Linked DNA regions of Homo sapiens: region 2 is linked to region 1. The links come from fine-mapping of genetic effects on gene expression. Tissue or cell type: subcutaneous fat. Region 1 holds a variant in brackets; the other region holds the start of a gene. All regions are shown on one strand. Distances are from middle to middle. Region 1 has its middle 22 kb from the start of CLDN23. Region 2 holds the start of CLDN23 (claudin 23).

What was found.
Region 2: CLDN23 starts here. The variant in region 1 is fine-mapped to the expression of CLDN23 in subcutaneous fat (GTEx, PIP above 0.99).

Annotation. Positions count from the first base shown.
Region 1 is chr8:8,678,647-8,681,553 of GRCh38, forward strand. No RefSeq gene overlaps it. Among named protein-coding and RNA genes, the nearest start is that of CLDN23, 22 kb to the right of the region's middle. The variant G/A (reference allele first, on the strand shown) is at 1,749.
Region 2 is chr8:8,700,963-8,703,869 of GRCh38, forward strand. CLDN23 (claudin 23) reads left to right here and starts at 975. Exons shown (of 1, transcript NM_194284.3): 1 at 975-2,907. The coding sequence starts at 1,437. The coding sequence ends at 2,315. RefSeq lists a silencer at 708-1,327 and an enhancer at 801-1,768.

The DNA.
Region 1 (2,907 bases):
ACAGAGGTAGAGTATGACACCCAGGAGGCGTTTTACACTCCCTGTGTTGCAGAGTGGTTGGGCCCAGGGTCTGCTTTCCTGGTTCTGTAAGAAGGAGTGTACAGAGAGCTGAAGTCATTGGCTCCGTGTTTCTGATTTGTTCTTATGGCATATTCATATCCAAAGAAGCTTCCTCGAGGCCAGCTTCCTTCTCCCCTTCTCTGTCTCTGCTTTAACCAGAAATTCTTTTCCTTCAGCTCAAATTACCAACATTTAAAAGGGAAAGATTCTAGGAGGAATAACCATAAAATAATTTAGGGCTAGCAATGTATGTATTAGTCTGCTTTCACACTGCTGATAAAGACATACCCGAGAATGAACAATTTATAAAGAAAAAGAGGTTTAATGGACTCACAATTTCATGCAGCTGGGGAGGCCTCACAATCATGGCGGAAAGGGAAAGGCTCGTCTTACATAGAGGCAAACAAGAGAGAAAGAGGACCAAGTGAAAGGGGTTTCCTTAAAAAACCAAAAGATATTGATAGACTTACTCACTACCACAAGAACAGTATAGGAGAAACCACTCCCATGATTCAATTATCTCCCACTGGGTTCTTCCCACAACACATGGGAATTATGGGAGCTACAATTCAAGATGAGATTTGAGTGGGGACACAGCCAAACCAATGTACATTGGATGTGTGAATGTATAAAATTCCTTGTGTCCCAAATGGAGGGCTTTGAGAATGTAGGATGCTGAGTGGCAGAAGTTTTCCTCTGCCCTTGGGAAAAGAAGGCAGGCTTCAAAGACAACCTTAGCTTCTTCACAAAAATGCCCTTTGCAGCTCCTGTTTCCATGGGGATGGAAATATGTAACTGAGAGTTGTGATGGGTTGAATTGTGGCCCCCTAGAAAGGTATGCTGAAGTTCCAACTCCCAGTACCACTGAATGTGACTTGACTTGGAAATAGTGTCCTTGCAGATGCAATTAGCTAAGTGAAGATGAAGTCAGACTGGAGTGGTGGGTCCTTAGTCAGATATCACTGGTGTTCTTCTAAGAACAGGGAAATGTGGACCCAGACACTTAAGGAAAAGGCCACGTAATGAAGGAGGCAGAGATTGGAGTTAACGCCGCTGCAAACCAAAAATTGCCTAAGGCCAAAAGAAGCTGGAAGACACAAGGAAGGATCCTCCGTTAGAGGCTCAGAGGAAGCGCGGCCCTGCTGACACCTTGATTTCAGACCATAGCCTGCAGAACTGCAGGGTAATGCATTTCTGTTGTTCTAAGCCACTCTGTGTTTCTCTGCAACAGCAGCCCTAGGAAAAAACACGGATGTTAATCAAAAAAATAAAGAAACTTTGAATGCCAACATTACACAAAAGCAATGTGAGAAGTCAAAGGGAAACAAAAGTCCTAAGCTGTTATACAATATCCTTGTGTTTCTTATTCTAGAGAGATGTTAAAAAGGTACTTATTTTCCACCACCTTAAAGGACCCTATTTATCTGTTCAGATGGAAAAATGGACTTTGGAGATTGTGGGGTCAGCCTCCTGACTCTTTGTTCTAAACTCTGGGAACCAAAAAGGACTCACCTACAGTCCACATAGCCTCAGTTTTTACAAGAAATAAAATTTTAGCTAAACTCAGGACCATACAACAGATCGGTTGTGCTTGAAAAGTTGTGTTTTAGAATATGGTTTTCCATTACATGAATAGCAACAAAACTGCTGAGTCAGAAACTCAAGCAACCTCTCCTAACCTCTATCCC[G/A]GGTTTTGTAAACACTCACTGGATTCTGGGAAATCACGAGACAGCAGTAAGCAGAATTCCATTTTACCATTTATTAGTCATGCAAACTTGGGCAACTTATTTAATCTTTCTGAGTCTTAGTTTCAACATTTGTAAAAAGGACATTTGTAAACTCCTAATCCACAGATTAAGTGTTAGCAGAGTTTGGACCAAGGACCGAAAACTGAAAACAAGAAGTGTCAAGCACCACCACGTTTTCAGGCAGGCTTTTGGCCATTTCCACAAGACTTGCAGAATTATCCCCAAACCCATTTGCCGCCATTGCCGAATGAGCCAATTACTCCTCTCAAGATATAAAAGAGAATATTAATAAGATGTGCTAGAGAGGCTGCCAGGGAGAGTGTCCTTGTGGAGGGCTGCTGGGGTGCCATGCAGTTCACCCAAATGGGAGGAGGCAGGTAAGGAAAGGGGTGCCCTTCTGCAACCCACCTGCTTCAGATCAGAGAGAAACCAGAAAATATTAGAAAATGTTGGAAAACTTGAAGTGTGGAGAGTATGCATGGACTGGTGTCTCATTCATGGTTTTTGTTTTGCTTTGTTTTTTAGAGACAGGGTGTCACTGTGTCACCCAGGCTGGAGTGCAGTGGCATGATCATAGCTCACCGCAGCCTTGAACTTCTGGGCTCAGTCAATCCTCCTACCTCAGTTTCCTGAGGAACAAGGACCACAGGTGTGCACCACCATGCCTGACTAATTAAAAAAAAGTTTTTAGAGAGGGGATCTTGCCATGTTGCCCAGGCTGGTCTCAAACTCCCGGCCTCAAGCGATCCTCCCACCTCATCCTCCCAAAATGCTGGGATTATAGGTGTAAGCCACCATGCCCAGCCTCACTTGTGTTTTATAAAAAGGCTGAAAGCGAGAAGCTGTGGCTGAACTTCCCTGGAGGCAGAGGGAGGAGTGGGCTCTAGGAGGAGCTAGAAGCACCACACCAGGGGCATCACAGCGGCTATGACTTCCATGGGCCAGATGGCCTTGATCTGGGCCAAAGAAAGAAAGAAGGAGACTCCATCTGAGAAGACCATCTTGGGAGGAGGGGAGGTGGCAGCAGTAATCCCCACCTACAGGGAGTCAGAGTGGATAGAAGTTGAAGAGGCCAACCCAGGAATGATCATTGGTTGTG
Region 2 (2,907 bases), 22 kb after region 1:
AAAGAAGCTGGCCACTTGCCTGCAGTCCTAGCTACTCCAGAGGCTGAGGCGGGAGACTCACCTGAGCCCAGGAGTTTGCAACCAGCCTGGGCAACACAGCGAAACTCCCCAACCCTGTTTAAAATAAATAAATAAATAAATAAATAAATAAATAAATAAAAGAAAAAGGAAAAAAAAAAAGCAAAGAACAAAAGGACACACATATACAGACAAACAGGAATGCTAAAATGAATTTACAAATCAATGCCATACTGGTCAGTATCCATTGGACAATAATCATTCCACTGGGACGAACTCATTAGCCTTGATGTTGGCAAAAGTCATTTGCAATACTACAGGCTTTCTATAATTTATAGAGTTGTAAAATAACCTACAGACGAGAAAGGCCACAGTACACTGTAAAATTAAATAAACCTGCAAAAAACGCTAAGCAGGACATCCGGGAACACTGGTCCCTCTTTCTAGTCCCCTTGAAAGTCTCACAAGGCTGAAAAAGGAAAGTAAAATCCTTGTGTAACCCTTCTGCCCAGAAGTACACTGGCACAGATTCTTTAGAGACGAATTTAATCCAGAGTGTGGAGCCTTTATTAAGGAAATAATCCGGTGCAACGTTCTGGGACACGCTCCTGGACTGGGTGGGCTTCTGCACACTCACCCAGCGCACCTCCAATCCCCGGGAGCGCTCGGCACCGCCCACTTCTCTGCGAGTGGCTGCAAGTTGCAGAGCAAACCAGGGGGCGATCTGGAACCCTCTGGGAGTAAAGGGCTAAGCTATAAGCGCAGGGTCGACGGGCAGGGACCGGAAACAAATTCTAGGAACCGAGATCCGCTGAGCAGCAGGGAAGCTGCGCAGCCACCGCGTCCCGCCAGCGCCGCCTCTTTCCCTCCCCGCCCACCGCCCGCCTGGCCCGGCGGGGCGGCGCGAGGACCCAGGGGCGGGGCGACCTTTGCTCCGGCCGTGAGCAGTCCAGGCCAGGCGTGGCCCAGCCGCCCGGCTGCAAGGTGGGGTGTCCCCGCCGCTCGGATCCCCATCTCACCTGCCGCGGGCGAGGTGGCCCCGCCGCTTCCTGCGCTCACCTCGGGTCCCTCCCTCCCGGGCCAGGTTTGGCCGCGGCAGCCGCCCCTGGGCGCCCGCGCCCGGACCCGCGGTTTCGGTCAGACCCGCCCGCGGGCTGGTTTCGATTAGGGCCAGTAGGAGGGCGGAGCGGCCGGGACGCCAGGAGGGAACTAGCCTAAGTGGGGACGGTCCCCGTGCAGGAGACAAAGAGCGTCCCTGGAGCGATCAGGGCTCAGGAGCCCGACCCGGAGCCCGGGGCGTCCGCGCTGACTTCGGGTCCCCGGAGCCTGGGGCACGGCAGGGAGAAGACGACGGCGGAGAAGGCGACAGCGGAGAAGGAAGGCAGGCTGCAGGGGCGCCGTCGGCGCGGCGGGCCGGGATGCGGACGCCGGTGGTGATGACGCTGGGCATGGTGTTGGCGCCCTGCGGGCTCCTGCTCAACCTGACCGGCACCCTGGCGCCCGGCTGGCGGCTGGTGAAGGGCTTCCTGAACCAGCCAGTGGACGTGGAGTTGTACCAGGGCCTGTGGGACATGTGTCGCGAGCAGAGCAGCCGCGAGCGCGAGTGCGGCCAGACGGACCAGTGGGGCTACTTCGAGGCCCAGCCCGTGCTGGTGGCGCGGGCACTCATGGTCACCTCGCTGGCCGCCACGGTCCTGGGGCTTCTGCTGGCGTCGCTGGGCGTGCGCTGCTGGCAGGACGAGCCCAACTTCGTGCTGGCAGGGCTCTCGGGCGTCGTGCTCTTCGTCGCTGGCCTCCTCGGCCTCATCCCGGTGTCCTGGTACAACCACTTCTTGGGGGACCGCGACGTGCTGCCCGCCCCGGCCAGCCCGGTCACGGTGCAGGTCAGCTACAGCCTGGTCCTGGGCTACCTGGGCAGCTGCCTCCTGCTGCTGGGCGGCTTCTCGCTGGCGCTCAGCTTCGCGCCCTGGTGCGACGAGCGTTGTCGCCGCCGCCGCAAGGGACCCTCCGCCGGGCCTCGCCGCAGCAGCGTCAGCACCATCCAAGTGGAGTGGCCCGAGCCCGACCTGGCGCCCGCCATCAAGTACTACAGCGACGGCCAGCACCGACCGCCGCCTGCCCAGCACCGCAAGCCCAAGCCCAAGCCCAAGGTCGGCTTCCCCATGCCGCGGCCGCGGCCCAAGGCCTACACCAACTCGGTGGACGTCCTCGACGGGGAGGGGTGGGAGTCCCAGGACGCTCCCTCGTGCAGCACCCACCCCTGCGACAGCTCGCTGCCCTGCGACTCCGACCTCTAGACGCTTGTAGAGCCTGGGGGGCGCCGGGTGGCAAAGGACTCACCCCCGCACAGGCCCGCCTGGCTTCGAGTTGGAACCCGGACACTTGCCCCTCACTGGTGTGGATGGAAATCTGCCTTTCGTGGGACCAAACAGGACTCCTTGGACGATTAGTTCAGGTTGGGTTTGGTTTTCTTCTTAAAGAGTTTAGTTTTCCTCTCCAGAGGGATCAGGGTCCTCTTAGGGAGTGACGGGCTTTTCATATATTTTTGCTGAAGAATATATGGAAAGGGTGGCATTTGCGTCACGTGGACCAGGGACAGTGCTGAAATCAGCAGTGCTCAGAAACAATTTAACATGTTGAAACGACAATATTCTAAAATACTGATGAATCTTGCATCAATATAATTATTGGGTTTTTTTTCTTTTTCCTGCTGTATAACTCCTTGCCATGCAAACTCTCAAGAGGCCAATATATTCCTGGCCATGTTTGAATGAGCCTCTTAAAATAAACTTAGAGCCATGCAAATGCCAGCAGCTTAATGGATTTCATGGAATGAAATACCGTGATTAACTCATAGCTACATATCATTGCATAAATGGGATTTATCTT